Linked DNA regions of Homo sapiens: regions 1 and 3 are each linked to region 2. The links come from fine-mapping of genetic effects on plasma protein levels. A gene starts in region 2. Each other region holds a variant in brackets. All regions are shown on one strand. Distances are between the middles of the regions.

Region 1 (10,909 bases), 41 kb before region 2:
TCTTGCAATGGGAATGTCTATCCTAGGCCTGTCCCACTATTATATTTTGGAAGCGTGTAACTTGTTAATTTCACAGACTGTCAGCTAAAGAGAAATTTGCCTTGGAATTAATCATGCCTTGAGTCTCATCCATATCTGATTCAGATGAGACACTGGACTTTGGACTTATGATGTTGGAACAAGTTAAGATTTTGGGGTTATGAAGATGGAATGAGTATATTTTGCATGTGAGAAGCACATAAGGGGGAGGGGGTAGAATGCTGTGGTTTGAATGTGTCTCCTGCATAATTTAGGTATTGAAACTTAATGGCTAATTGTGATAGTATTAAGAGGTAGGACCTTTAAGGGGTGATTAGGTCATGAGGGCTCTGTCCTCACGAATAGATTAATGTTGTTGTGGGAGTGGGTTTGTTATAAAATTAAGGTTGGCCTTCTTTTGTGCTCTCTTGCCATTTGATGCCTTTTGCCATGCTACGACATAATGAGAAGGCCCTTACCAGATGTCATGCCTTGATCTCGGACTTCCTAGCCTCCAGAACTGCAAGCCAAATAAATTTCTGTTCATTATAAATTACCTAGTCTGTGGTATTCTAATCTAATAGCATAAAATAGACTAAGATACTACATTTTGTTTGAGATGGAGTTTCACTGCATTGCCCAGGCTGAAGTGCAGTGGGCGTGATCTTGGCTCACTGCAACCTCCGCCTCCCAGGCTCAAGTGATTCTCGTGCCTCAGCCTCCCAAGTAGTTGGGATTACTGGCACATGCCACCATGCCCAGCTAATTTTTGTATTTTTAGTAGAGACGGGGTTTTGCTATGTTGGCCAGGCTGGTCTTGAACTCCTGACCTCAAGGGATCCACCCGCCTCAGCCTCCCAAAGTGCTGTGATTACACGCATGAGTCACTGTATCAGGCCTAAAAAATATCACATTTTAGTAGGCGCTGCAATATGTGGTAGTGGGACAGGCTCTCTCAAAAAATACTAATTTATTGATGATGATGTGATTTGGTAGCATCTGAAATCAGGTCATCTTCAATTGAAATTGAAAATGGCATTGAAATCATGTTAACAGGACTAACAATTTTGGTCAGGCGCAGTGGCTCACACTTGTAATCCCAGCACTTTGGGAGGCTGAGGCGGGTGGATCACCTGAGGTCGAGAGTTCGAGACCAGCCTGACCAACATGGAGAAACCCCATCTCTACTAAAAATACAAAATTTGCCGGGCATGGTGGCACATGCCTGTAACCCCAGCTATCGGGAGGCTGAGGTAGGAGAATCGCTTGAACCCAGGAGGCGGGGATTGCGGTGAGCCAAGATTGTGCCATTACACTCCAGCCTGGGCAACAACAGCAAAACTCTGTCTCAAAAACAACAACAACAACAACAACAACAAACAAATAAAAAACCCCAAAACTATCAATTTTAACAGTCTGGAACAATATTTTTGGAACATTTTTAAGTTAAGCAGAATGAATATGATTCAAAAAACTCATTGTACCTGTACAGAATGAGGAAGATACAATTTAATAGCTGCCTGTGTGAAAAAGGATTTAGTGGCATTAATTGCTTATATGTTTTTGGAGTCAATAGCATGATGTCATTGCATCAACAGAAGTACAGTGTGTGGGGAAAGAGAGGTGATAGCTTGTTTCCACATCGCACAAGTCATAATATGCCTGGAGGATGTGCTCAGTTCAAGATGTGTCACATTAAAAGGGATATTAGAAACCTGAAATGCATCTGGGTGAGACTGTCTGAGGATATCTGGGAATGAGGCATTTGAGAAACAGTTGAAATTGGGCATTTAACCTGGAAACTAAAATGACATACAGTATAATGCAAGGACTGACCCAGACACTGGAAGGAACATCATGTGTATGATAAGAGTAGGCTTGTACTGTGAGATTTCTGAGTGTGAACTAGAATCAGTAGAAGTGAAAATTAGAGACAGATTCAAGCACACTCTAAGGCGTTTGCGGGGAGATGGAGGAACAGAACTGGGCTTGGAATTGAATTCCAGTTGTGTGACATTGAGCAAATCACTTAGTCACTCTGAATCTCAGGCTCCCCTTTTATGAAACAGAAAAAAAAATTCTCCCTCCCTGAGTGAGATAATATTTGATAATACATGGCCAAGTGTGGCAAAGAGTGCTGATTCTATTACTTTTGAAAGCAGCATTATAAAACTAGAGCAGTCTAACCACAAAATTGGCTATCTCGGGAAGCAGTGAGGTCCCTGTCACTGGAGGCATGCAAGTCTAGGACAATTAACCCCTTAGGAATTGAGGGTGAGAATCTTGCACAGGTTTTACTGCTAAATAGGAGGTCAATGTACAATGAACATGATTTATTGGGTCCCTTCCAATTTTAAGAGTCTCTGCAGACTGGCATCACCATTCTCTTTCCCTGGCTATTAAAAATGCAGGTGGAAAAATTGCTTCATTCAACTGTAAGGCTATTCACCTCTCTGCCCAAGATAGGAAGGCAGAAATGACTTTATTTTGAGCATTTCATTCCCAACTCCCTAATTGAACCACCTTCCTTTGAATTCTAAAATGGTATCATTTCCATTTTATAAGGTTATCAAGGGCATGTATTTCTTCAAAAATGGCACCATACAGAGTAGCTTCCTATGTGATCTGATTTGAGGAGGGCCAAGGGAGATTCAATTGCACCAAATTATTTTTTTCCCATTGGTCCTGCTATACATCTTAAAATCCCTCTATTCTCTATTGTTGTAATTTTTTTATATATAGCTATCAAAATGTGAATGTTATCTAGGTTTTATCTATCTTTAACATCATAGCCAGACTTAGTCTGGGCATTAGTGTATTATTGAGGTGCTCATGAAAATGCACTGCTGAGTTCTGCTGTAGGGAGCATCACTGGCTGATGCCCCCAGCAGTTAACACTCTGGATTGTCCACTGTGTTTGCCCCTATGCCACATTTCCTGTGGACTGCTCCCAGCTAGTGACTGACCATGGTGGTGGTATTACTACTGGTCCATTCCTGAGAGATGCAAGACTCCTCCGACACACGACTCTGATTCAAGGGCTCCGCATCAGCTGGCTGAGCTTTTCTAGGAACTGTGCTGCAGTCCCAGACTCTTCCTATCCAGTCCCCTCCCTCCCGGTCTCCTTCGCAGGAATTCAACCTGCATTGTGGCCTGAAGGCTCTGCCTGCCTCTTCCTGCTCCCTCCCCTTTATCCTTCACAGGCACTTCCTCCAACAAGCCTCTTGCATACTTAACCCCCGGAGGGCCCAAACTAACACAAGTGATGTCAGGAGTTGGGTGAAAAGACAGGTGGTAAAACGAGGTTGTGAGATGGGCTTACTCACAGCCTGGAAGGCAAAGGGGGCACCATCCTGTGTGATAGATAGAAAATGAGTGATCTCTGGCACAGAGTGAAGGCCCAAATACTAAACTTTTTACCCATGGTAACCTGGAAAACTCCCCAGTGATGAGAGCCACCTTGCAGGAGTAATGATTCAGGAGTTTGAAAATTGTAGGGGCAGGGGGAGATGTCTGCAAGATCAGTGGGGTTGGCTGGTTACTACTCATTTGCCTGATGCCCTGCAGAGGATGAGATGGGAGCCTTTCTAGTGAGAAGCTGAGGCCTTGACAAGCAGTTAAAGGCTAAATGTGAGAGCCAGAGGTTCTCTTTGGCAGTGAACAAAGAGACCCCCATCTCCTGCAGTTGACACTGGACACAGCTGAGCAGCGTCTATCAGTTAGACAGTTACTTAGAATTGCAGAGCAGGTCCATTATGCTAAGGTCAGGGCCCTGGATGAGAAAACCTGGGGCCCTGGAATATGGAAGGGAGACATCTAAGTGGAGGTCTCTGAAGACTGCCCCAAATCCTCTGAGTTTGCCAAGGCAACCTACCCTTTCTTAGAACAAGCTAGTGCTTCCCCTCTGTGGGAGAGGCTGCAGAGACCTCTCCTCCACAGGTCAACAGGAGCTGCTCCCATGTCCTCACCTGGCTGCCAGGTGAACATCAGGTTAAATCCCAGCATTATCTGGCTGAGAACTTGCTGGGCTTGAGAAGGAGGAAAGAGATTATACACTGAAGAGGCTTCAGGACTTGCTAGAATATAGCTGCTATCAGAGGAGTACTCCTGGAAATAGATTTTGAGGGTGCTGGATCAAAGGGGCTGGAGTGTATGATTAACAAAACTCATTTTCTTGGGCACCTTTGTTGAGACATGGGATTGAATACTAGTGACCACCCTGGGGGATGAGGCAAATTCATTGCTAGAGTGGCTCATAGAAACCTGGAAAGAGTGATGGCCCTTGCTGAGCAAAGTGAAAATACAAGAGTTTCCTCGGCAGACAGTAGAGGAAGGCATAAAAAAGCGCAGGCAAGTAGGTATGCTAGAGTGGGTGTGTTATGCAAGACCAGGAGACCGATCAGAGGATTATATTCCCAGAGAGGGCCCAGATGACACGGTGGTCACCATGTCTGTTGGGAAATCTGAGTCTACAGGGCTTGTTGATGGTGCTCTTCTGAGGTAGGGGATGATAATATAAATCACAGAAGTAGATTTTTGGGCAGTGGCCAATGGCTTGGACATCTGGTAAGGGGAGAACTGGGAGACTGGAGACAAGGAGGTCTGGGCTACAGGCATGGGAATGGATGTACTGATGTGGGAACACATTTGTATCACATAGTAGCATGCACCAGAAAGCATTTACCTGGTTACTTGGTTACTTGAATAACCAAGTAGACAAAGTGGCTCAGCCAGATGAGGTTAGCAGCCTTTGCCATCAGCCACCATAACTGGCAGAAAGGGCACATGCACGGAGGGAAGGAGATGGAAGTTGAGTTTGGGCCCAGAAGCAGGGAGTCCCAATTAGCATGGGAGTTACTGCTGCCTGAGTGTGCAACCTGTCAGCCACAGACAATACACTGAACCCCTGTTATGGTAATATTCCTTGAGGGGACAGATAGCCTCTTGTGGCAAGCCAACTACATTGAGCCCCTCCTATCCCGAAGGGTTGGCAACTTATTATCACAGGAATAGACACCTGTTCTGGACATGGTTTGCCTCTCCATGTCAGCCCCTCAGCTAGCACGATCACTGGACTTACAGAATATCCTATTCACAGGTATGGGCTCACACACAATATAACACCTGACCAGGGAACTAGCTGTGGGTACAGGAGTGGTCCCATGACCATGTATCACACATCCAATCCAGAAGCAGCCAGCCTTGTGGAGGACTGGAATGGCCTCCTAAAGGCATAGCTCAAAAGCCAGCTTGGAGGCAGCATTCGGAGAGTGGGAGCCATCCTCCAGGCTGTAGCCATGCATACGTTAAATCAGAGGCCTATATATGCCACTGTGTTCCTTATGGAAGAATGCATGGGTCTGGAACCAAGAGGTGAAAGCAGGAGTGACTCTACTTATCACTCCTAAAGGTACACAGGGATTTTATGATTCCTTTTCTCACAATTGGGAGTTCCCAGTGGGGGGTGTTCTCTTGCAAGAGGGCACAACAAGGGTCCCATTGCACTATAAGCTAAGATTGCCACAAAGGCACTTTGGACTCCTTGTGTTGAAGGACCAGCTGGTGGGAAGAGGGCTCACCATCCTGCTGGGCGTCACTGCCCCTGTCAGCAGGAGGAGGTAGGGTGCTTCTATACAATGGGGACA[G/A]GGAAGAATTTGCATAACCCAGAACCCAGGGCATCCACTTGGATACCTACTAATACTCCTGTGCCCCATTTCGACTGTGAATGGACACATGTCACAGCCCTGTCCTCTGAGCCCTGCCTAGGTGATAGCTGAGGATGAGGGACTTTTGAACGGACAGTGGAGGAGGCAGAGGATGAGAACCAGATGTGGTCCCAGGACTAACAAGAAGCACTGTAGTTCGTATTCCTAACCTCTCTCATCTAAATCTCTCCTCAGGAAGAGTGACCTATGGGATCCATGGAGGAGCTGCTTCCTGAATCTGTGTAAAGTAGATCTTGCCGTGTGGGTAACTGTGACTGCGGTGGCCATGAAGAGGCACAACTCAGACCTCGGATCTCCTGCTGCAGAGAACATTGACTGACAGCCCAGCAGCTCCTGTCTGGATCTACCACCTGTTCACAGTGAGGCCAACATCCCCCAGGCTGCTCCCAGCCCAGGGCTGAGCATGGCATGGTCCTAATGCTCTTAAAGACCTCTAGATCTCTCTAGAGATGTAGGACTCTTCCAACAGGCAACTTTGGCTCAGGGCTCCCCATCAGCTGGCCTAACCTTTCTAGGAACTGTGCTGTGGCTAACGGTCTCCCAGCCCATCCCTGCCCTTTTCTCTCTCCTTCACAGGGGCCAGACCTGCATTTCCACCTGCAGGATCTCCTTGCCTGCTCCTGCTCCCTCCCCTTTCCTTAACATGGGCTCCCCAGTAAATCATTTACATGTTTAATCCTGACTCTGCATCTGCTTCTCCAAGGACCCAAACTAACTCATGTACAGTAGAAAATGATTGACTTTTGACTTGGTCCTGGATTCATATCTTGTCTCTGTCGCTTATTAACAACATAAACTTCCATCACTCAACCCCTCCTTATTTTCCTCATCAATTAAAATATTTCTTACTCCTAAAGTTATGGTGAATATTGGAAGAGTTAATTTTTGAAGAGCACCTGTGATGTGCCTCCTAGAACAGGGACAGTTTGTTCCTTTCTCATCATTATCCTTTAGCAGTGATGGAATGGGACTCTATGCTGGTGAGTTTTGATAAGAGATTGCAAGGAAGTGAGAGAGGAAGAATATCAGCTGCAGCACATGACAAGTCTGCCTCCTGGGTCAGGTTCCCCTGACAGCGTTGGTGCCTGGGGCATAAAGATGCTGGGTGCCAGGGAAGGGAAGGATGGGGCACTGGAGGGAGACCAAATTCAATCATTTTAAGTCCAGTCCCCAGTTCTGTGCAATTCTTAGTGTAAAGTTTTTAAAAAGAACATTAAAGACAGTTACAAAGCCGAGAAATGGTCCTGTCTCTCTGAGCAGCGCTGGCCATGCTTAACCCACCACCCCCGTCACCCGCACCCACCCCTGTCTCAGGGCCCTTCAGTGTCACACACAAAGGGGCCTCACCTCTGATTCACATTCTGAGGAGAGCAAGTTCATGGATCAAAGAACATGACTAATGGCCGTGGAACTTTCTGAAGAGCCCGGAACATTTAATTATTATGAACAATTTAGTTCACTTCAAGTGGTTTACCTAAGCTCCACATACTTCAGCATTTGCTTAGCAACATGAAATAAAGCTTTCTCTGGGGTTCCCAACGTTTGGACTGGGCCCTCTCCCAGCACCAGCTGGCCTGTCTGCAGAAGGTTCACTCTGTGTGAATTTCCTGACTGGAGTGTGAATTTCCTCACAAGGGACAAGGGGAGGGAAGGAAAGAAGTGGACAGAACTTTAGTTGTTCTCTGTGACAACGGACTTAAAAAAGTCGAAAGGGGGCTTTGAGTCCCTGCTCTCACTAGGCTGATGTGAGCATTAAACTAAACGTGAGAACACATTTAAAGCACAGAGAAACTGCCTGGCATTTCAGTGCTTAATAAATGCTTATGGTTATTGTTTTTAAAAAGCAATATCCTCTTTTCCCTATTGCCCTTCCTCCTCCCTATAACACTCCCTTCTTCCCACCTACCTCATCTTACCTGACCCCTTTGCTTCCTTCTTGAAGTCTTTCTGACTCGATGGAGACTACATCAACAGTTCTTCGCTTAGCGCTGTTAGAACTTGGCATTTCCAGCCTCACGGGGCCCACACACATTTTGTCTTGTATTGTGCTCCAAGCACACATCTTATCTTGCTCGAGGAGAAAGGGAAACCAGGAAAGTAATGATTGGCACATGGGATGAGGAGCTGGAATGACTGGGGTTCCACCATTTACCAGCTATGCAACTAAGCAAGTGACTTATTCTTTCTCAGCCTCAGTTTCTTATCCGTAAGATGGGAAACTACAATTAACCTCATATATTTGTTGTGAAAATCTGGAGATGACTATACAAAGCACCTGGTACATAACATGGATGTATTTTATTATTGATTTATTATTTAATTTCTCTTTGTATCTGCCAGAGAATATTGCAGAAAGGATACATTATTCACCTCATAAATGTTTGGGATAAAAGTGAATTGTGGTTTTGCACCCATTTTTAAGATAAAGATTGCTATGAAACTGGTGTTTCCCATACATTCCTGAGCATAAGAATCTCCTGGAAAATTTGCTTTGGTGGGTCTGGAGTAGGATATTTTAACAGGCACCTTAGGGCATTCTGACATCTGACATTGGGAAAACTGCTGTAAACTCAAATGATGCTTACACCCCTCAATGATTATGTGAGAGTGTCTGTTTTGTGAAAAGGATGGACTTATACAGGTCTCTTAATAACGGACACACTGCTGCCCAATTGATTTGGGCAAAGCAATCACCGTAAAGTGTGAGCATGGTGGAGAAGCCACATCGCCATTTAGGTACAGCTGGGTCAGCCATGAGCAGCTCTAGTCGGCACTGCATCGCTAAGTGGACTCCGGGTGCCTTTTCTTAATTGAATGAAATCTCAGATTTCAATTTATTTCCAGGCTGCATAATGTGATAATTAGAAGCTTAGTTACATCTAATGCCCTGAATGGAGGTCCTAGGATTGTCTCACAACAGTCAAGAGGTCTGGATGGATAATTGCCACCACTTCACAGTAAGAATTGCCAACCTCAGAGCTCTAAGGAGAGAATGCCCATGGAACTGAGGGCTTTGAAAATCCACTCAAGTGTTGCCCCAATGTTAGCATTGTTATCAATGAAGAGATTTTGTCTTTTATGGTGCTGGATTGTCAGGAAGGGGTTTCTTTTATATGGCACGGATTTCCTTTTCATTCATCAGTCCACAGTGAGGTGGTTTTAATGAGGCACAAGCTGGGCTGAGATCAAGATGAAAGCAGAAAGATCAAGGGCCAACGAGGAAGAAAAAAGAATACTCAGCCCAGGAGCAGCTTCCATTCTTCAAGGACAATCTTGAAGAAGATTTCCTAGGGGAAGCATTTGCAGTTTTAATAACAGACTTGAAATTGAAGCTCAATCTATTTCTGGGCAATAAAGGAAGTATCTTTAGTGTTATCTGATTTATCTTAGAATTAGATAGATTCAAAATGAATAGACAGCAATCCCTGGAACATTTCACAGGGTGTAACTCAAGCCAAGTAATTCCAGAAAAGCAAGTAGTACTCTATATGCTCAAGCCTCAAAATCAAGTTCAGAAATCCAACAGGCTCGTTTTTGAACTCTTGAATAGAAACTGGAAAGCAAGGATACTGTATTTGGGTTACACATACTACTTTATAGCATACACTATTTGACATCACTCCTTATTAAAAATATTCCTTCATCTCTAAAGCTTAAAGTGAATGGTGTTATCTCCAATAGACACTGGAAAAAAAGTTGGAGAACAAAACCCCCAAATCTGCTCACTATCTTACTTTATAGAAAATGTTTTGAAATATTGATACCTCTCTTTAGATGGTTATACATAAGAGATTTGGTTGTTACTGAAGCATTTCATTTATGCTGAGACAAGTAATACAAATATGTATGAAGGTGACTTGCAAGTTGAGACATTATGTCATGGGGGCTCAAGTAGGGACCAAGTGCCATGAGGTGTCATATTTCCAGACTGGTCTGAGGTCAAGATGCTAAGTGAGTTCATCTAGCTGACTGCCCAGGCCTCCACATCTCATGGTGGTATTCGTGAAGTAAAAGAAAACTGATTTTTCTGTGTTTAAAAAAAAAACACACAAAAGATTTGAAAGGAAAGGTGACCAAGTATTGTTGACAGAAGTAAACAGAAAGTTGAGATCAAAGACAGTTTTAGTTCTTAACTAGAAAACCAAAGTCTGGGGTAAATGAAACAATAGAATGTAAAATTCAGCAGTGACCTGGTCCTATGAATACAAGCAATTCACCATATACTCTCCAAAGAAAGAAATAAAGAAAAAACACTTTGTAAAACAGTTTCAGCTGGTGTCTCAGCTAGTATGAAAATTGCTCATCAAATGAGAGATAAAATTTTAGTGGAAATTGAAAAGAAAATTTGTGTTATAATGAAATACACAAGAAGCCTATGCCTGCACAGAAAACTGATTCGGGTGAAACCCAGAGATTTCCATAACTGAGATCGTGAATATTTGTGAAAAACTAGATACTTGTCTTTCAAATGGATTAAGTATAGGAAGAAACTCACATCTCTCTCTCAATCATCTGTATATCTACCTATCACATATGTATATATGTTTCTTTCATCTATCCATCCATCCAGTCATTCTTTTTTGGAAAAATAAGGGAGATATGGCTGGGCTCGGTGGCTCAAGCCTGTAATCCCAGTACTTAGGGAGGCTGTGGCGGGCGGCTCATGAAGTCAGGAGATCGAGATCATCCTGGCTAACACAGTGAAACCCCATCTCTACTAAAAATACAAAAAAATTAGCCGGACGTGGTGGCGGGCACCTGTAGTCCCAGCTACTCGGGAGGCTGAGGCAGGAGAATGGCGTGAACCTGGGAGGCAGAGCTTGCAGTGAGCCGAGATAACACCACTGCACTCCAGCCTGGGCGACAGAGCAAGACTCTGTCTCAAAAAAAAAAAAAAAAAAAAAAGAGAGATATGTGTATGACATTGTGCTAGGAGGAAGGATATAGACTTTAGGGAATACAGACATGTAATGGAGGAGGACTAAGACACATCACCGTGAAAGAACACTTTTTTTTTTTTTTTTTTTTTTGAGACAGGGCCTTGCTCTGTCACCCAGGCTGGTGTGCAGTGGCGTGATCACTGCTCACTGCAGCCTTGACCTCCCGGGCTCAGGTGATCCTCCCACCTCAGCCTCCTGAGTAGCTGGGACTATAGGCCCATGCCA
Region 2 (10,806 bases):
AGATGCTGTGTCTCCAGAGGAAAATGCAGATGAAGAGGCTGTAGGAGGCAGGCAGCTGAGGGAGGAGTCCATCTGCAGAGCCTAGGAGGGGCTCAAGGCTCAGAACCTCCAAGTCTCGCCAAAGACAGGAGTGAGAAAAGGGTCAAAAATACGGAGAATACCTGAAAGTTTATATATGGAAGAGTCAACCTCTCCACCAACTTTTCTCATCCCATGTGAAGAATGCCAGACATTCAAATGTCTGCCTGTTAGGCAACAAGCAAATAAAGAAATAAACATTGCCAGGTATACTGTTATTGGCCTAAATGTGTCTCCTAGATGTAGAAAAATTCACATGTTGAAGTCCTAACTTCTCATATTTCAGAATGTAACTGTATTTGGAAACAGAGCCTTTAAAGAGGTAATTAAGGTTAAATTAGGTCATATGGGTTATCCCTAATACAATATGGCTGATGTCTTTGTAGGCAGAGAAGATGGAAGCAGGGACATGCACAGAGGAAAGGCCGTGTGAAAGCACAGGGAGAAGATGGCCAACCACAAGCCAAGGAGAGAGGCCTGGGAAGAAAGCAACTCTGTTGACACTTTGATCTTGGACTTCTAGCCTCCAGAAGGGAGAAAATAAATTTCTGCTGTTTAAGTTATCCAGTCTGGTATTTGCTATGGCATACTCAGAAAACTAATACATACATTTTTCTTAAATAAAATTGAATGGCTACAGAGAGGAATTCTCTACAATATGACATTCATGGGTATCCCAAGTAAAGACTAGCTCACCATGTGATCACCCTGGAAGGAAGGCTGCTTGGCGAGAAGCAGGCTCCTTACCCTGCATATAGAGTTCTTCATCAACTTTGTACTGAATAATTATTAAACATGAGGGTGCTACCAATCATACACAGGGTCGCCTTCAGGGATTTCACAAAGATCTCCAGCATAAAATTGAGAAATTAAGATAAATAAAGATTTTTAAATGACCACAGATGGAAGAGATAATTCAGGGAAAGAAAGAAAACTTAGAAACCTTCTAGTTAACATTCTTAAAGAAATAGGAGAGAACATTCCACTGTAAAGCAAGAACAGGAGTTATTAAAAAGGAATGGAGAAAGAATAAAAAGTCTGGAGGTTGAATATACAGTTGTAAAATGAAAGTAACTGAAGAGCTGGAAGATATTGAAGAATATCTTAGAAAGCAGAATCGCAAACTAAAAGTTCTAACATGACAGAAAATAGTAAACACAGATGGCCAATAGAGGGGAGAACATCTCATAACAGAAATCCCTAAAAAGAAAGAATAGAGAAAATGGAAAAAATTATAATATAAATAATACAGGAGGTTTTTTTCACCATTGAAGAGTAAGAACCTCAAAATTAAAATGAGTACATGAAAAAAAGACCCAAAGACCATTCTAAAATTTCAGAACATCAACAAAAAAAGAAGAGACTAAAAGCTTCAAGAGAGAATAAGAAAAAAGGTCCTATGAAAAATGAGAATCAGGCTGGGCATGGTGGCTCACTCCTGTAATCCCAGCACTTTGGGAGGCTGAGGTGGGTGGATCACTTGAGGTCATGAGTTCAAGACCAGCCTGGCCAACATGGTGAAACTCCATCTCTACTAAAAATACAAAAATTAGCCAGGCATGGTGGCACATGCCTGTATTCCCAGCTACTTGGGAAGCTGAGGTAGGAGAATCGCTTGAACCTGGGAGGCAGAGATTGCAGTGATTTGAGATCGCACCACTACACTGTCCAGCGTAGGCAGCAGAGTGAGACTCCATGAAAAAAAAAGAAAGAAATAAAAGGAAAATTAGAATGATACTGGATTTCTTATCAGCAGCACTGGATAATACAACACAAGAGAATAATACTTTAAGTTCTAGAAGAGAATTATATTTAACTTGAAATTATATACCTTGGTAAAGCATCACTCAAATATCTGGGTAAAATATAACAATTTTCAGGAATGCAAGGAGTCAGAAAACATGCTTCTCATACATCCTTTCCTAGAAAGTTACCGGAGGATGTTCTCCAGCAAAATAAAATTCAGAAATCAAAAGGGAAAAAGTCCTGTGATTCCGGACAGGGAATTCAATCCAGGGAAGAAGAAAAGAGAAGTCCCAGGAAGAAACCTATGCATCAGATTTAGAAAGTAACTAGTTTGAAAGCAGCAGGTTAGCATGCTCAAGGATCAAGGTCTTAAAAAGAGGGGGAGGACTTAATAGATTACTTATCATGATTGAAAATTTGAAAAAATATGAGAACAAAATTAAGGCAGTTCGTAATTCTAGGAAAAAACCAAACTGGGATTATAAAAAATATAAAAGTGTCAATTGAAAATTGTAGAAAAAAAAACAAGATAGGAAATGTAATCAGAGTCTATGATCTTATTCTTCAGTGAACAACTTTCATAGTCAATAATTAAAAACTATATTGACTTCCTACTTTTAGAATCTATCTATCTATCTATCTATCTATCTATCTATCTATCTATCTATCTATCATCATCTGTCTATCTATATCTATCTAGAGCTTCTTGGCCCTTTGGCTAAGATCAAGTGTAGAATCAATTATAGTAAAAGCATAAAAGCATGGGAGATTTAACTATGATTATAAAAATAATTAACGGACAATCTAGAAGTAGAAGTATAGATGAAAGAGACTGAGAGATCAAGGTGCAGGAGGGTGTCTGAAAAGTTGAAGGGATAAATAATCTCATCTTACAATCTGGGAGTTAAGAGATATTGTTTATATTTGAAGACTCAAGAAATAATTCTGTGGGTATATTACTTAAAAGTGCAAGGGTAAGATGAAAAAGAATAAAAAGCAGGTCATTAGGGCAGTGATCAACAATGAAGAATGAATAGAAAATTTGGCACATATTGATGCAATACCATGCAATAAAAAAAGGATTTCACTTGGATATAGGAAAATGCTTGAGATATAATTTTAAATGGAAAAAAGTAGATTATAAAATTTTAACTATAAAATGTTATTTAGTTATGTCTGGATAATATGTACAGTTTATGGGTAATTTTTATACTTCATTCATTCAACAGATTTTCTGCATTTCATTCATTCAACAGGCTTACTGGAAATCTACCATGTTTGGGGCAAGAGAAATGGATATGGCAACTTACAAAGATGATCAAAGCCCTGCTACACAGTTTACTGTCCAGCAAAGGAGGTACATATTGTACCAGTAACTATAACAAAATGTGAGCTTTACAATGAAGGACATTCATGCTATTAGGAAAATATGAAGCACAGGTGCTGAACCTAATATAGGAATCTGGGGAAGATTTCTTCAACAAATTATTTTGCAATGAATTAATTAATTAATGTAAATTGACAAATAAAAATTGTATATGTTTATGGTGTATGACATGTTTTGATATATGCGTATATTGTGGAATGGCTAAATCAAGTTATCAACATATCCATTACCTCACTTACTTACCAATTTCTGGTGATGAGAACATTTAAAATTTACTCTCTCAATTATTTTAAATGTTAAAATGAGAGTTTTTTTTTTAAGCAGAGATTCAGTATTAAGAACATGGTGTTATCAAAATTATGATTATGAGCTCAGGAAAAATGCTCAAGGGAAACAACAAAATATTAATTATCTGTGATGATCTTTAGATTCAGATATTCTGAGGAATTTTATATTCTTTATGCTTTTCTGATTTTTCTAAGTTTTCTGCAAAGAGCACATATGGCTTTGATAATCAGAAGAGACTAACAGAAGTTATTGTTGCCAGTGAAGCAGTTAGATATTTTGCTGTTTGAGGGCCTTTCCTCAGTCCTCCTGTGGAAGCAGAAGGCAGTTACTTAATCTATCTAAAGAACAGTTACAAACAATTACCAAACCACCTGTCCACCCTAGGCATTTCTGAAGGCTCTCATTGGAAACAGTAGATTCATTTCAACAAATGTTTCTGTTAGCCAACTTGGAGATGGTGTTTGTTCACCACGAGCTGTGCTAATAGAAGCTTGTGAAGGTACAAGGTGATACAAGTGACAAAAATATGCCCACTAGTTACCTATTATTTCTGATATTTCTTTATTAGACTGTTGTGTTGGCTCTGTTTTAATTTACCTATACCGTATATTATGTAGCCATTGAAAAATATGATTTAAAACATGAAGTAATCCCTGTTTTTGTGCCCATGTTTCTTGGATTGTGTTTTTAGGTTCTAAAAGCATTGAAATTGATTCTCCAATGACTCCTTTCCAGAAGTTATTCTTACATGTAAGATCAGATCTGTCAGTGGTGATTTCTATGTATTTGGATATTTAGTTTATAGCACATTTAAGTTATCTGCATTATGTTATTTCTCAAATCATAGATCTATATTATAATTTTAAGAATCCCTTTCACCCTCCATACTGTATCCAAAGATCACTTTTTTCAAAGGTCACCTAGGCAGAATAATCAAATTAATGCTTTTAATTTGGTAATACTGAAAAGTAAATTGCAATGTATGCACACACAGATTGAAAATCAGGTGCCACAGACATGAGCATGCACAGAGAATTTCTGCATTCTCATGCCTTAGTTTATCAAATAAGGAAAATGTATAAAAAGCTACTCCACAATTGGTGTGTGAATATATTACTTTATCTAAATGCATCTTCTCAGGCCAGGCATGGTGATTGATGCCTATAATTCCAACTGCTCAGGAGTCTGAGGATCGCTTGAGTCCTGGAGTTCTAGGCTGCAGTGAGTATCACAGTGCCTTCAGCCTGGGCAAGAAAGTGAGATTCTAGCTCTAAAATATTTTAAAATTCATCTTTTCACCTCAGTTTGTGTGCCTCTGCTGGAAAAGAAAGTCCAAAGGTTATTGTTACATTATGCAAATAATATGGGCTTGCAATCAAAAGAGCTGGTTCCTAATTCTCACTTTACCACTAACTTGCTGAGTGACTTCAGGTAAGTCACTTAACTTCTCTGGTTCTCATTTAAACCAAGTGATCTCTTTAAGTCATTTCTAATGTGAAAACTGCGTGATTTAATGAGATATACATTTTGGATAATGATATGGTTAGATTGTGTCCCCACCCAAATCTCATCTTGAATTGTAGCCCCCATAATTCCCACGTGTTGTGGGAGAGACCTGGTGGGAGGTAACTGAATCATAAGGGTGGGTTGTTCCCATGCTGTTCTTGTGATAGTAAATAAGTCTCATCAGATCTGATGGTTTTAGAAAGGGGAGTTCTCTTTCACATGCTCTCTCTTGCCTGCCACCATGTAAGACGTGTCTTTGCTTCTCCATTGCCTTCTGCCATGATTGTGAGGCCTCCCCTACCATGTGAAAATGTGAGTCCATTAAACTGCTTTCCTTTATAAATTACCCAGTCTCAGGTATGTCTTTATTAGCAGTGTGAGAACAGACAAATACAGATAAATTGTGGCTGTGCATAGCTTCTCTTCCTCTGGGGTTCAGGAACATTTTTTTCCTTACTCCCTAGTTGGAGCCACTTTGGCTCTATTAATGACTTACCCCAAGAAAACCTCACAGCAAGGACTCAACAGTGATGAGGGAGCTATACTAAAACAATATCCCCCAGATAGCCCAATGGGAGAGAGATTTGTATGGGCATGGGTTTAGTCAGAGCCCAAAACTTGTTGTGTCTTCTCTGGAAGAACCTCCCAGACCTCCCCAGCTAAACTCATAACCACATCCCTTTCCTAGTTTATCTTCTGTGTCCATTTACTGCACTGAAACTTCCTATTCCAAGTCAACGTTTCACCTCCAGATTGACATCCAAGCTGAAATCTGCTAACAGGGTCAGAAAACAGTTCATAAAGGAAAGTAAGCAAAAATGTTGAACCCATTCCAGCTTAATAAAAAAAAAAAAAGCCCACAATAACAAAATCTAAGGTTCTGTGTGCTTTCCTACCAATATAAAACACAGCTTTCTCCCAGAAACTCAACCATTTTCCATAATCATGATCTTCTATTAACAACTCACATCTTTCCAAGTAGGCACATTCTCTCTGTTCTCTTATGTCAAAAGTACATAACATGGTGCAGTGATCCAACTATGGGCTGGCTTCTCTGCAAACTGTCAACATTTCTCTCCCTGCCTTCCCTTTGTTCCTAAGAGCAGTTGTGGATTGGTATAGACCCAAAATGGAAGTTGAAATATGCATTGCATCATTTGTCACATTAGCTACAAAGGAAGCAGCAGAAGTAATCAGAAATGAGGAGCAGGAAATTTCCGATAAACAACTCTGATGGTTATCTGGAAGCTGAATTGAATCACAGGCACAAGAACTTGGAATTGCATTTTGAATTGCAGAATTAGAGGTAACTGCCTCCCACCTATATGATAGTGTCAATTAATCAAAAATTGAATATAGTTTTACAGGCTTAGCATTCCATTCCATTCTGCGACATGTCAGAGAGCATTTATTTATTTAACAGGCTGACATGAAGCACATTTGGATTTGGAAAAAGAAATAATTAAAAAGAACCACCCTGGGTGGCCCAGATGTGGATACTATTATGGATGTTGATAGTATTTGGAGGTGAAATGAACGAGTTTTTTTTTACAGACTCAATATTGACCAATGAAAACATGTAACTAATGAATTTAGCCCTGTAGTCAAGCAGTTTAAGCCTTTTTCAACATAGATTAGGAAGTTAGAATGGATGCCTCTCATTGAGTTTGCATTCAGTAGAATAAGTAAAGCTTGTTTAACTCATGCATCTCTCACTGGCCGCCTCTCTCTTTAATTTGGGAATAGAAAAGGGAGTCCACAATTAATTTTAGATTGTGAGAAGAGAGACAAAAAAAGGAGCAGAGAGTTTCTGAGATAACCTAAAATCTTTGCCGCACCCCTTACTAACCCCGGTTTGTGCCCCTTCACTATGGGAGTAGCTCTTGTCATCATCTAAAAAACTTGAACTGCATTTTGAGAGATTTATTGGCCTTGCTTCTGCAGGCTCATAACTCCTTTATGTGCTTGCTCTTGGGAGGAAAAAGCAGATAGACGTTTAAAAGCTGGATGTTCCTGCACACCCCTCTCCTGATGCTTCATTCTTTTCCAGGCAGAAAGATGGTGGGACTCTGTCTCTAGCAAAGGGATATTTCCAGATACTGAGGTGTTGTCAGAGACACCTGGTCAGGGAGGTTAGGAGAAGGGGCATCCAGGTCCACCCCCTCCAACTGGCTGCTGCTTTCCTGGCAGGGCTGCACTGGGACACCTCACTTCCTTCCCACTTCCCCTTCCTCCTCCCATTCGCTGTCTCTTTGCACACCCCTAATATGGCCTTTCATAGTAAGAGGTCAATATGTTTTCACACTTGGGAAATCTCATTCAAGAATTTTTGTCAATGGACAAGTCATAAGAAGCCCTTCCATTTTAGGGCTCGTTGACGTCACCAAGAGGCGATAAATATCTGTTGATATAATTGGATGTGAGATTCAGTGTTGAGATAGCAAAATTCTGCCCCTCGTTCCTTGGCAGGGCCCTATGATTTATGCAGGAGCAGAGGCAGCACGCAATCGAGCTGTCAAGAGAGCGTCAGCTTATTAGGCAAATGCTGCGTGGTTTTTGAAGAGGGTCGACACTATAAAATCCCACTCCAGGCTCTGGAGTGGAGAAACTCAGAGACCAAGTCCATTGAGAGACTGAGGGGAAAGAGAGGAGAGAAAGAAAAAGAGAGTGGGAACAGTAAAGAGAAAGGAAGACAACCTCCAGAGAAAGCCCCCGGAGACGTCTCTCTGCAGAGAGGCGGCAGCACCCGGCTCACCTGCGAAGCGCCTGGGAAGGTAGGGAGCGCCTGGACGGAACACGCCACCAACTTTGCGTTGCCTGAGCTGCCGCGATGTGCGCCGCGGAGCCGGCTGCCCCTGCCTGTGTACGTGTGTATGCATGTGTGTGCGTGCGTGTGTGTGTGTGTATGCATGTGTGTATGCGTATGTGTGTGTGTGTATGCGCGCGTGCGTGCGTGTGTGTGTGCGCGCGTGTTCGCGGACTATTCCTTAAGATTACAATAGTAGCTGGGATGTGGCAAAAGCAAACTTAGACGGCTGCTCTTCGTTACCCGTGCTGCCAGTTGCTCCTTGCTGGCTGTGTAAAGGAGCTCCCCCACCCCCTTCTATCCTAACCCCCGAGATAAGGCAGCAAGGGCAGAAGTGGAGAGGGAGGACCATGAGGCAGTAGTTCTCAATTTGGAAGAAAATGCTGAAATATCCGGAAGGGAGGTAGTCAGCGCGGGTGGGATCTTAAATCTGTGGCTCTTCTCTAGGATCGGGAAAATTAGTTTTGAGGATCGTTAGGAAGAGGACGCAGGGACCGTCCTTTCAGAGTCTAGAAAGAAGGGTCACTCCTGGCCGGTGAGCGCATGAGCTTAGGTGCGGAGCCCTGCAGGCGCCCCCTTTCCCCGCTCCCCAGGCGCTTCAGCACCGCGGACAGCGCCCATCCGAATCACTGAGGCCAAAGCCCAGCACGTCTAAGGCAGTCCCGTAGGAAGACCCCGTGTGCACCTCCCAGCTGAGCGAACTCTAACCAACTCTTTCTTTCTCTCTTCCCCTCTCTCATTCCGCCCTCCGCCCACCTCTGTGCCGCAGCGAGTGCCCCTAACATGCGGCTGCCGCTGCTTGTGTCCGCGGGAGTCCTGCTGGTGGCTCTCCTGCCCTGCCCGCCATGCAGGGCGCTCCTGAGCCGCGGGCCGGTCCCGGGAGCTCGGCAGGCGCCGCAGCACCCTCAGCCCTTGGATTTCTTCCAGCCGCCGCCGCAGTCCGAGCAGCCCCAGCAGCCGCAGGCTCGGCCGGTCCTGCTCCGCATGGGAGAGGAGTACTTCCTCCGCCTGGGGAACCTCAACAAGAGCCCGGCCGCTCCCCTTTCGCCCGCCTCCTCGCTCCTCGCCGGAGGCAGCGGCAGCCGCCCTTCGCCGGAACAGGCGACCGCCAACTTTTTCCGCGTGTTGCTGCAGCAGCTGCTGCTGCCTCGGCGCTCGCTCGACAGCCCCGCGGCTCTCGCGGAGCGCGGCGCTAGGAATGCCCTCGGCGGCCACCAGGAGGCACCGGAGAGAGAAAGGCGGTCCGAGGAGCCTCCCATCTCCCTGGATCTCACCTTCCACCTCCTCCGGGAAGTCTTGGAAATGGCCAGGGCCGAGCAGTTAGCACAGCAAGCTCACAGCAACAGGAAACTCATGGAGATTATTGGGAAATAAAACGGTGCGTTTGGCCAAAAAGAATCTGCATTTAGCACAAAAAAAATTTAAAAAAATACAGTATTCTGTACCATAGCGCTGCTCTTATGCCATTTGTTTATTTTTATATAGCTTGAAACATAGAGGGAGAGAGGGAGAGAGCCTATACCCCTTACTTAGCATGCACAAAGTGTATTCACGTGCAGCAGCAACACAATGTTATTCGTTTTGTCTACGTTTAGTTTCCGTTTCCAGGTGTTTATAGTGGTGTTTTAAAGAGAATGTAGACCTGTGAGAAAACGTTTTGTTTGAAAAAGCAGACAGAAGTCACTCAATTGTTTTTGTTGTGGTCTGAGCCAAAGAGAATGCCATTCTCTTGGGTGGGTAAGACTAAATCTGTAAGCTCTTTGAAACAACTTTCTCTTGTAAACGTTTCAGTAATAAAACATCTTTCCAGTCCTTGGTCAGTTTGGTTGTGTAAGAGAATGTTGAATACTTATATTTTTAATAAAAGTTGCAAAGGTAATCATGACTTTACTGTTTCTCTTCAGTGCTCATACACTGGAAATACTCTCTTAGCTTCCTCCAAATTGTCTTCAGCACCAGAAAAGAAAAGCAAAACTTCCTGCATTATATTTTTCCACTAAAAATGCAAACATATGTCAGTGGCTTACACAGACCCTGCAATCACGTTGGGCTCATCTCTGTGCCATGGACTACTTCTCTGAGGTTGAGTTAATAATTCAGGAAGTTGCTCCCAGCAGCTCTAAAACATGGTAATTCTAAAAGGGAAGATCATTTTATAATGGAAATAACATTTAGCCCTGATCAATTAAAATATATGAAATAATTGGAGATAGTGGGGAAAAGATGAGGAAGAGAGAAGTGTCAAGCTAGAAATTCCTCCAAACTGTATGGCCAAAATGCTGCATTCTTTTTCTATGAGAAAAACTCACTCTGTCAAACTACTACTTTGGTACCATAAAACTATTTTTTCTAAGCTATTTTCCAATGACTACATCTAATAAGAGAAACTTAATAGCATCTCCACTTAAGACGACTAAATTTAGTCATTATAAAATGTCACATAGGAAAATTTTCTTATGAAGAACATTTTGACTTTAATAATTACACAAATATCCTCCACATTTTTGCTTATGTCAACCCTAATCACTTTTATTCTTAGGAACAGGAACTACCTTTGTTCATTTCTAAAACTGAACAGCACATTTAATTAGTTTTACAGTGCATTTGCCTTTGGTAGTTTAGTTATAGCTTTAAACAATTCAATCAAATGTTTAATACTTCAAAATTAATTTGTCTGTATGAAGATGCATCTTATCCTGGGACCCTTGAAATACACTTAACTAATGGATGAATAAGATAATACAGAACATTGAATAAATCATTATAAGACGAAGCTTTTAAAAACATCATTTATTTAAGAGTTCATATAAAGTTACACTTATGTTCTGAAGGAGGCATTATGGTGGGACAAATATTAACAAAGCATGATTTAAATATATATATATTTAATGTGTGATATGTTTGTATATATATTTAAACACATGCAATTGTTCTACAATTTACCAGATTGGTGCCACAGTGAATAAAAGAGAAAGTAGACAGCTTTTGCTGGAAG
Region 3 (10,735 bases), 530 kb before region 2:
TCAAAAACAAAAGTAGGCTCCATGCAGTGGCAGTTAAAGAAGGGGAAGTTCTGGTGTCTCCAGAGTTAGCCGATGGGCACAACGGCAGTTGAAAGAGACCATGTTACACAAGTCATTCAGGTTCTGGCCAACATCTGCTTTGAACAGGTCGCATTCCCAGGAGCTCCAGGCTCCCTTACCCCAGGGAAATGCTGGGGTGGTGGCTTGTCTTACAGAAGTGGTAGCCAAGGGGACCAGAAGGCACACCCGGTGCTAAAACATGCCTAAAACTTCCTCTAATGTTTACAGCTCTTCCAATGACATTTGGGGAACTAAAGTATGGATAGCCTCTTCATTGCTAGAACCGCTATAATATGATAAGTTAAGAATTTGATTTAATATTTATAAAGAACTTAGAAAGAGCCCAGCGCATAGTAAGGGCTATGTAAGTGTTTGGTAAATAAAAAAAGGCACCTCCCAGATTGGCTGGGTGAAGTCTCAATCTGGTGAGAAGGGAGAGAATCAAAATACACAACAGTCTATTTTTCACTTTGACAAAAGATTTAGAAATTACAGTGCTCTGTATTTATTTTGCACCCAAGTGCACACTAAGTAGTCTCTGGTGCAGGACTGAAATTCTACTCATGGTTCAGAAGTCACTGTGCACAACTCAATGAAAGCGTTTTAAGTTTCAAGAGATGATTCCTTTCTCTTTTCTCTTTCCAAGTAACGATGACTAAAAATGACAGAATCTAAAAATCTCAAAGCACTTCTTGTGGGTACATTCCAAAGCTAAAACTGTGAGAATTAATAGGGCCAGATTCACTTGAAGAGACGTAAGGGTTCAAATTACAGAGAACTTAAAAGACGCAACGTATTAAGGTCTTTTACTACAGATCCGCTGACAACAGGTTAAACGATTCCATCCACCCCACTCTGGCGGCTGCCCCCTCCCCGACCCTCGCAGGTGACCTGCACCCACTTTCGACCTCAGATAGGGTCTCCCTGCTCGGCGTTCCCAGTTCCTCCAGGCTCGGCGGCTGCGTGGGGGTTAACAAGGTCCAGCCACCGACGCCCCTTGGGCGTTTAGGAATCTCGAGGCAGGATCTGAATTCACCTCGTGGAAACAAAGACCACAAACTCTCCGGGAGCCGGGGGCTGGGCGGAGGTACGGCTTTTTCCGAGGACAGGCAGCGGCCGAGGCCCGGGCAGCCCTCGCCCCGCCCCGTCTCCTCCCGCCCCGGGCCGCCGTCGGAGTCCCGGGCGCGCGGACCCTCCCGCCGGCCCCGCACCTACCTGGCCCCGCGGTGCTGCTCCCGGCGCGGCGGGCGCGGAGCCGAACGCACTGCGCTTCCTCCTTCCCGGCAGGGCCGCCGGGCGCCGGCGTTTCCTCCTTGACGCGTCACGGCCGCTGGCGGCTCCTCCCGCGGAGCGCGCGGGAGGCCGAGGACAGCCGGGGAAGGCGCCGGATCCCAGCAGAGCGGCGCGAGCGGCGGGCCGGGGGCAGCCCGTGCGGGGAGGGGCTGCAGGCTGCGTCCCGCTCAGGCCTCCGAGGAAACCCGCGCTCCTCTCTCTTCCCCGAGGACCCCCGCGAAAGGCCGGGCCACGGTGCACCGTCTGCCCCCGTCACGCGCTGTGCAAAGTTCAAGAGGACACAGTGGGTCCTGTCTGGAGTCACAGACTCTGGTGTTTCCCTCTGCTCCGCCCGCAGTGGCCGCTACCCTGGGGCCCAAGACCGGCGCGGGCCAGAGCGCCGGGGCCCAACAGAGATGACCTGGTGTGTGCAGGGATCAGGACCCCCCGGGTGGGCCCGTGGTGTTGGGGGGGTTGGCTTGGTGTAAACTGGAAACTCAGAGGAGTGAATTAAATATCCAAATAATTGAGAACAACTGTGATTCATTTAGCATTATTTGGACAGTTTTCCACTTTTGTCATTAGCAGAGTTACGGCCCTTGTGTTTATAAACAGTCGAGAACTTTCACAAATTGGCAGATCCTGTGTGCAGAGAAATTTCCTTTCCACACATCTTTTTAGATCTACTGACTCTTTTTTTTATTCCCATTAATCTCCAAGTCAGCTGAGTGCACACTTTACAGCTCCTTATTACTCATTCTTGAATTACAGAAGCTGCGTTTTAGATCTGTTTATCTCTTTTAACAGATAGAGAAGCTGAGTGGAGAACTAAGAATTACATGGTTCAATGGATGTGGAGTCAAGTGGTTAAGATTTTGAAGTAGAGTGGGTTGTTTTCTTCGTCCCACAACACTACTGTAATTTAGGTCTTATCAGATATCACTTGAAGATAGACTCAGACAAGTACTTAAAGATTCCCATGTGCATATCATGCCTTAGATTTTGAGACAATGATTTGTACTTTAGATCATATGATTCCAGAGAATTTGCCACAAATCTATGAACAAATAAACTGCCAAAGGTTATTAGAGGAACTGGGATCTATGTGTGACTTCCCTAAATTCAGAAGACATTTCCTCATGTTTTAAAATGATATTCAAAGATTTAGCCCCACAAGTATGGGTTAGGACATTCATTTTTAATGTCAATAACCACAATGTGGCCTCTCTTTAAAAAGTGGATTGTGAATCCAAATACTTTTTGTACTTCAGTAATCCTACAGAACTTTCTAAACAGTAGTTTTCAGAAATGAATATAAGAATGCAGTAGATACAAAACAATACATTGCCGGTGGTCCTTTATATGTTTTACTGTGGTCCACAAAGCAATCCACATACATTAGAGGAGTTCTTCCCTTGTAACAAAATCAACAAGTGATGAGTGTATCTCTTAATTAAAGCCATATTCACAGTGCTGAAGATTTCTCAGACAAAAGGAAGTTCTGTGTCAATAAACTCCAAGTGGAATAACATCATTCTCACTTTAGAGACAAATACCTGGCTATCACCACATCTTGACTTTTTAAAAAAATAAACATCTGGGAACCATTACATTTCTAGATAAATTTGTCCTATTGTGAAGAACACACACACACACACACACACACACACACACACACACACACACAGAGATCACCTCCCACAAACATTTTATGTATTTTCTTTTTTTTTTTGAGACGAGACGGTCTCACTGTGTTGCCCAGGCTGGGTTCATTTGATCAACAGACAACATGTTAGGCATTTTGCCTTTACAATCTGAGAGCTGCAATTTAATAGCTAGATTTTGCAAAAAGCTAGAGGAGGTAAATATATTCACAAACTACTAAGGACTTTTTCACTGTAATTAAATTAGTTTTTTTTTTTTTTTTTTTTTTTGAGATGGAGTCTCACTTTTGTTGCCCAGGCTGGAGTGCAATGGCACAATCTCAGGTCATTCCAACCTCCTCCAACTTCCGGTTTCAAGCGATTCTCCTGCGTCAGCCTCCCGAGTAGCTGTGATTACAGGTGCCTGCCACCACGCCCAGCTAATGTTTTGTATCTTTAGTAGAGACAGATTTTCGCCATGTTGGCCAGGATGGTCTTGAACGCCTGACCTCAGGTGAGCCACCCGCCTTGGCCTCCCAAAGTGCTGGGATTACAGGCGTGAGCCACCATGCCCAGTCTAAAATTGGTTTTAAGGGCAAATTTTAAGGCTGATCACTTTGTTGTTGTTGTTGTTGTTGTTTTGGTTTTTTTTTTTTTTTTTGAGACAGGGTCTCACTCTGTCACCCAGACTGGAGTGCAGTGG[C/T]GTGATCTCGGCTGACCGCAACCTCTGCCTCCCAGGCTCAAGCAATTCTCCTGCCTCAGCCTCCCCAGTAGCTGGGATTACAAGTGTGCGCCACCACGCCCGGCTAATTTTTGTATTTTTAGTAGAGACAGGGTTTCACCATGTTGGCCAGGCTGGTCTTGAACTCCTGACCTCAAATGATCCACCTGCTTCAGCCTCCCAAAGTGCTGGGATTACAGGCTTCAGCCACCGCACCTGGCTAAGGCTGATCACTTTGATTAATTGTGTTCACCTATTGATAGAGATATAGGTTATATCCCCATTTTCTGTTATGTTTCCAAGTTTAGACTGTAAAAAAAAAAGTTGTTGAATGTTCAGCTAAATGTCTAGCTGATGTTTATACCTTTATGAAATATTTCATGTAAATAAATTTTAAAAATAGAGCTTTTTATCAGACTATGGGTCCCAATACTTTCTTTGAAAATATGATTCTGTTCATTCAGATAGAGCAAATATTTTGTTCATCTGTTTTATCTATAGTGTAGAGATTTTGAACACAAGCTTTGGAATTGGACAGACCCAGGTTTAACTCCTGGTTTGCCACTTCCTACTTTGGGCAAATTGTTTCACTTCTCTGAGCACCGGTTTCATCAGTAACCTGGGGATAATAGTGCTTTTTCCTCTTCAGTAAAACGGAGATAATAGTGCTAATCTCATGAAATTGCTATGAGGATCAAATGAATTTAGTAGAATGCCTGGAACATAATACCAAGTGACTGCTATCTTCATCATTATTAGCTCTAAAACATATATTAAAATGCCAATATTATATATGTTTTATTTGTAATAGTATTAAAATGGCCAGATTTTAGAAATTTTGGCGGTGGCTCACGCCTGTAATCCCAGCACTTTGGGAGGTCAAGCCGGATGGATCACGAGGTCAGGAGTTTGAGATCAGCCTGGCCAACATAATGAAACCCCGTGTCTACTAAAAATACAAAAAATTAGCCAGGTGTGGTGGTGGGCACCTGTAATCCCAGCTACTTGGGAGGCTGAGGCAGGAGAATCACTTGAACCTGGGAGGTGGAGGTAGCAGTGAGCTGAGATCACGCCATTGCACTCCAGCCCCGGGCGACAGTGTGAGATTCCGTCTCAAAAAACAAACAAAAAAACCCCAACTACCCAGCCACATAATGTGGTTATTACGATTATTTTAGATCATATATTCCAATGAAATGAATGCTTGGTTTTCATCCTCCACTATTCAAAATGGGAAACCTTTTCTCTAAAATGGTGCCTTATGTGGAAGCATTATTACTTTTTTATATCATAATAAAGCCCTCTATTATTTGTAGTTCTTTTATCAGAACCTTGGAAGAAGTGAGGGGCATAAAAATACAAGAAATACCACTTCCATTAGTGAGGGCTGGTATTCATTAGAATGCTTGTTTTTTGCCAGGCACCGTGGCTCATGCCTGTAATCCCAGCACTTTGGGAGGCTGAGGCAGGCAGATCACCTGAGGTCAGGAGTTCAAGACCAGCCCTGCCAACATGGTGAAATCTTGTAGCTACTAAAATACAAAATTAGCCAGATGTGGTGGTGGGTGCCTGTAACCCCAGCTACTCAGGAGGCTGAGGCAGGAGAATCGCTTGAACCCGGGAGGCGGAGGTTGCAGTGAGCCGAGATCTCACCACTGCACTCCAGCCTGGGCAACAAAGCGAAACTCCAGCAAAAAAAAAAAAAAAAAAAAGGAATACTTGTTTTATAGCAGATAAAATATTAAGTCTAGAGAGGTAAGAATAATCCTACCAACTATATGCTTACAAAAGCAAAATACTTTTTTTGGTTTGTTTTGTTTTTTGAGACAGGATTTCATTCTGTCACCCACCAGGCTGGAGTGCAGTGGCGTGAGCTCGGCTCACTGCAGCCTCGACTCCCTGCTTTCAAGCCATCCTCCCACCTCCTGAGTTGTTGGAACTACAGGCTTGCGCCACCACCTCAACAAATTTTTAAAATTTTTTGGAGTCAGGGTCCCACTATATTGCCCAGGCTGGTCTTGAACTCCTGGCATCAAGTGATCTTCCTATCTCGGCCTTGAAAAATGCTAGGATTACAGGTGTGAGCCACCTCGCCCAGCCTCGCAAAGGATGGTTTTGATTCATATTATTTGCATTGCTTTTAGGGTATCTTTTCCCTCATTCTGCTGAAGACTCACATGCTTAAGTGGGTCAGACACCATAAGTTGTTGCTATAGTTTCTAGCTATGTTTATCAGCTGACATTCTAATCACAACATCCCACAGTATCAAATAAAAGAAAACCATTTTTGTGGAGAAGATAGTTAAAAACATAATCCTAACTATGAATTGGCTCAGATTGTAATAATTAAAAGGAAAACCTTGCTGTAAAAATGGGTAAAAATATGGGGAAACAAAAGTGACTAATTTATTAAATTTTCTTTTTTTTTTTTTTTTGAGATGGAATTTTGCTGTGTCACCCAGGCTGGAGTGCAGTGGTGTGATCTCGGCTCACTGCAGCCTCCATCTCCTGGATTCAAGCAATTCTCCTGCCTCAGCCTCCCAGGTAGCTGGGACTACAAGCACACACCACCACACCTGGCTAATTTTTGTATTTTTAGTGGAGACAGGATTTCACCATATTGGCCAGGCTGATCTTGAACTCCTGACCTCAACTCATCCGCCCACCTCAGCTTCCTGAAGTGTTGAGATTACAGGTGTGAGCCACCGAGCCTGGCCTAAATTTTCTTTTTTTTTTTTTTAAATTTCTCTCTCTCTCTCTCTTTTTTTTTTTTTTTTTTGACTGGGTCTCACTTTTTTTTTTAGAGACAGGGTCTCACTCTGTTGCGCAGGTTGGAGTGCAGTGACACAACCATGGCTCACTGCAGCCTCAACCTCCAAGGCTCAAGCACTCCTCCCACCTCAGCCTCCCAAGTAGCACCACAGGTGCACACCAACACGCCTGGCTAATTTTTTATTTTTGTAGAGACAGGGTCTCCCTATGTTGCCCAGGCTGGTCTCAAACCGCTGGCCTCAAGTCATCCTCCTACCTTTGCCTCCCAAAGTGCTGGGATTACTGGTGTGTGCCACCATGCCCAGCTGACTAATTTATTAAATTTTCTGAGCAAAACAATTTAATAAAACATAAAGCAACCCAAGATACAGTTAGAAAAACTCAGGCCAGTAGTGGTGGCTTACGCCTATAATCCCAGCAGTTTGGGAGGCCGACATGGGAGGATCCATTAATCCTAGGAGTTTGAGACCATCCTGGGTACCAAAGTGAGACCCCTCCCCTTGTCTCTATAAAAAAAAATTAGCTGAGTATGGTGGTGCACACCTGTAGTCCCAACTACTTGGGAGGCTGAGGTGGGAGGATCACTTAAGCTTAGGAGGTCAAGCCTGTAGTGAGCTATGATTGCCCCACTGCAGTCCAGCATGGGCAACAGAGGGAGACCCTCTGTTTAAAAACAACTGGCCGGGCACGGTGGCTCACGCCTTAATCCCAGCACTGTGGGAGGCCTAGGTGGGCGGATCACGAGGTCAGGAGATTGAGACCATCCTGGCTAACATGGTGAAACCCCGTCTCTACTAAAAATACAAAAAAATTAGCCGGGTGTGGTGGCGGGCACCTGTAGTTCCAGCTACTCTTGAGGCTGAGGCAGGAGAATGGCGTGAACCTGGGAGGTGGAGCTTGCAGTAAGCCAAGATCGTGCCACTGCACTCCAGCCTGGGCAACAGAGCGAGACTCCATCTCAAAACAAAAAACAAAACAAAAAAAAACAACCAAAAAAACCCTCAGTGGCCGAGCACGCTGGCTTACACCTGTAATCCCAGCACTTTGGGAGGTCATGGCAGGCGGATCACCTGAGGTCAGGAGTTTGAGACCAGCCTGACCAATATGATGAAACCCCGTCTCTACTAAAAATACAAAAATTAGGCTGGGCGTGGTGGCTCACGCCTCTAATCCCAGCACTTTGGGAGGCCAAGGCAGGTGGATCACAAGGTCAGGAGATCGAGACCACGGTGAAACCCCGTCTCTACTAAAAAATACAAAAAAATTAGTCGGGCGCCGTGGCAGGCGCCTGTAGTCCCAGCTACTCGGGAGGCTGAGGCAGGAGAATGGCGTGAACCCGGGAGGTGGAGCTTGCAGTGAGCCGAGATTGCGCCACTGCACCCCAGCCTGGGAGACAAAGCAAGACTCCGTCTCAAAAAAAAAAAAAAAAAGTACAAAAATTAGTCGGCATGGTGGCATGTGCCTGTAATCCCAGCTACTTGGGAGGCTGAGACAGGAAAATCGCTTGAACCCGGGAGGCGGAGGTTGCAGTGAGCTGAGATTGAGCCATTGCACTCCAGCCTGGGCAACAAGAGCAAAACTCCGTCTGAAAAACAAAAACAAAAAAACCCCTCAGTTGGCCAGGTGCAGTGGCTCATACCTGTAATCCCAGCACTTTGGGAGGCCAAGGCGAGAGGATCACTTGAGGTCAGGAGTTCGAGACCAGCCTGGCCAACATAGTGAAACCCTGTCTCTACTAAAAATACAAAAATTAGCTGAGCGTGATGGTGCACCTGTAATCCCAGCTACTTGGGAGGCTAAGGCAAGAGAATCACTTGAACCCGGGAGGGGGCGGTTGCAGTGAGTCAAGATTGCGCCACTGCACTCCAACTTGGGGGACAGAGCAAGCCTCTGTCTCAAAAAAAAAAAAAAAAAAAAAAAAAAAAGGGCCGGGCGCGGTGGCTCACGCCTGTAATCCCAGCACTTTGGGAGGCTGAGGCGGGCAGATCACGAGGTCAGGAGATCAAGACCATCCTGGCCAACACAGTGAAACCCCGTCTCTACTAAAAATACAAAAATTAGCCAGGCACGGTGGCTCATGCCTGTAATCCCAGCACTTTGGGAGGCCGAGGCGGGCGGATCACGAGGTCAGGAGATCAAGACCATCCTGGCTAACACAGTGAAACCCCGTCTTTACTAAAAATACAAAAATTAGCCGGGCGTGGTGGCAGGCGCCTGTAGTCCCAGGTACTTGGGAGGCTGAGCCAGGAGAATGGTGTGAACTCGGGAGGTGGAGCTTGCAGTGAGCTGAGATCGCGCCACTGCACTCCAGCCTGGGTGACAGAGTGAGACTCCTTCTCAAAAAAAAAAAAAAAAACCCTCAGATACACATGGGAACTGAAATTGAGAGCAATTAACGCCTCTTTAGCACAGAGCAGAATTAACTTGTTTCTATGATTTGAAAAGGGTTCAGCATGTGTTCATTTTGTGGGGTAGGGTATAGGTGGGAGGCCCAAAGCTGAACGTCATTTCTTGGGCCAAATTAGCCAATTCAAACTCAAAACTGAAATGCTTGAAGTTCAAGTATGTTTCATAACAGGTAGGAAACTCTATTTTAAAACAAGACTACATTAGGATCAAATATAAGGCTTTTCAGATCACAGGACTTTCTCATTTTCTGTATTAGACTCATGAGAAAAATCAAGGGGAAGTGTTAGGAGATCAGAACACTTAAACTGCTAGCATCAGCTTTTTGATAAAAAGTAGCTAGAAATTATTTTAAATTTCCCTAAGACCATTAATTATCTAAAATAATATTATTATACTTTCCTATTAGGGAAATCTCATTGTCTTCCAATCTTGTTTTTATGAATGTCAAGAATAAAATATAAATCATTCATTTTTCTCTTTTTTTCTGTATCTCATTTAGTCTATTATGTACATAAAATAAAAGTCTGTTAATAGTTGACAATAATTTATTTACATAAGTCGTGTCAGCAGTTTCTACGTCCAGGGGATCATATTAGGGTAGGTGGACTAAACCTGCTAGGTGGACTTTGAAGATAACTATTATTTTAGTTGCTTATCAGTGGGGAATAATAGCTTTTCTTAAACACTGTTCATTTGGTGACTCAGTTATTTACTTCTATTATGTGCAATTAATGATTGAACCTATTTCAAATGCAAGGGCTTAATAGCTTCTGGCATAAAGAGGTGCATTGCTGTTATTTCCTTAACAAATTCTCTAAGGAATCTGTGTCTGGCCCAGCCAGATGTGTCAAAGACTTAAGTAGACCTTAAGGAATTATAACTCTTCATACGCAAGAAGACTCTTAAATTCCCCTGAGTTTTCTAAGATAAACAACCCCAGCTCTTTTAACTTTTTCTGTCATTTTAAAAAATATTTTATGACTCTCATAGGAGTTTTTCCCAAATTCTCCATGTTTTCTTTAGATTTTAGAGGAGATGCCCAGTATGAGACATGGAACTCTATAAAGGATCAAGTGAGTCCTTAGTATCATGGAGTGCAGTGGTGCGATCTCAGCTCACTTCAACCTCCACCTCCTGGGTTCAAGCAATTCTCCTGCCTCAGCCTCGCAAGTAGCTGGGAATACAGGCACCTGCCACCATATCCAGCTAATTTTTGTATTTTTAATAGACGCAGGGTTTCACTATGGTGGCCAGGCTGGCCTCAAACTCCTGACCTCAGGTGATCCGCCTACCTTGGCCTCCCAAAATGCTGGGGGTACAGACGTGAGCCACCGCACCTGGCCAGTTGACACTCTTTTTTTTTTTTTTTTTTTTTTGAGACGGAGTCTCGCTCTGTCGCCCAGGCCGGACTGCGGACTGCAGTGGCGCAATCTCGGCTCACTGCAAGCTCCGCTTCCCGGATTCACGCCATTCTCCTGCCTCAGCCTCCCGAGTAGCTGGGACTACAGGCGCCCGCCACCGCGCCCGGCTAATTTTTTGTATTTTTAGTAGAGACGGGGTTTCACCTTGTTAGCCAGGATGGTCTCGATCTCCTGACCTCATGATCCACCCGCCTCGGCCTCCCAAAGTGCTGGGATTACAGGCGTGAGCCACCGCGCCCGGCCGACACTCTTATAATGCAGCCTTGTATTAATCTTACGTTTAAAATTACACTTCAAAAAAATCACATTTCATTATTATCAGATTTTAAAATCTAAACTCAGCCTCCTTTTATTTCTCAAATTATATTTAAGAAGTTGTTTTGATTATCCTATGTAATTCCTCTGCATTTGTTTTACTGAAACTGTATTTCTCCTGG

Direction of the effects. Positions count from the first base shown, and alleles are read on the strand shown. Strength reflects both the effect of a copy and how common the allele is.
For the plasma level of the protein whose gene starts at base 7,608 in region 2, A is the low allele of the variant in region 1 and G is the other (moderate association).
For the plasma level of the protein whose gene starts at base 7,608 in region 2, allele C in region 3 goes with a higher level than allele T (moderate association).

What was found. PIP is the chance, under the fine-mapping model, that this variant and not a neighbour inherited with it causes the effect. The UK Biobank Pharma Proteomics Project read protein levels with antibody pairs (Olink). The fine-mapping took linkage between variants from a reference panel, not from the people measured, so its PIPs are less certain.
Region 1: its variant is fine-mapped to the plasma level of the CRH protein (UK Biobank, PIP above 0.99).
Region 3: its variant is fine-mapped to the plasma level of the CRH protein (UK Biobank, PIP above 0.99).

Annotation. Positions count from the first base shown.
Region 1 is chr8:66,216,218-66,227,126 of GRCh38, reverse strand. It overlaps LOC102724687 (a long non-coding RNA gene), which reads left to right. Exons shown (of 5, transcript XR_929013.3): 3 at 5,919-6,103. Among named protein-coding and RNA genes, the nearest start is that of LINC00967, 30 kb to the right of the region's middle. The variant G/A (reference allele first, on the strand shown) is at 5,664.
Region 2 is chr8:66,175,266-66,186,071 of GRCh38, reverse strand. It overlaps CRH (corticotropin releasing hormone), which reads left to right and starts at 7,608. Exons shown (of 2, transcript NM_000756.4): 1 at 7,608-7,779; 2 at 8,581-9,696. The coding sequence starts at 8,595. The coding sequence ends at 9,185. TRIM55 (tripartite motif containing 55) reads right to left here. Exons shown (of 10, transcript NM_184085.2): 10 at 10,587-10,806. LOC112268029 (a long non-coding RNA gene) reads left to right here. Exons shown (of 4, transcript XR_002956713.2): 2 at 3,081-3,181; 3 at 4,191-4,249; 4 at 6,112-6,186. LOC124901954 (a long non-coding RNA gene) reads right to left here and starts at 556. Exons shown (of 2, transcript XR_007060948.1): 1 at 1-556. RefSeq lists an enhancer at 8,653-8,722.
Region 3 is chr8:66,703,374-66,714,108 of GRCh38, reverse strand. The region is part of intron 3 of C8orf44-SGK3 (C8orf44-SGK3 readthrough); the gene reads right to left. It overlaps SGK3 (serum/glucocorticoid regulated kinase family member 3), which reads right to left and starts at 1,328. Exons shown (of 17, transcript NM_001033578.3): 1 at 1,276-1,328. RefSeq lists a silencer at 1,150-1,619. The variant C/T (reference allele first, on the strand shown) is at 3,679.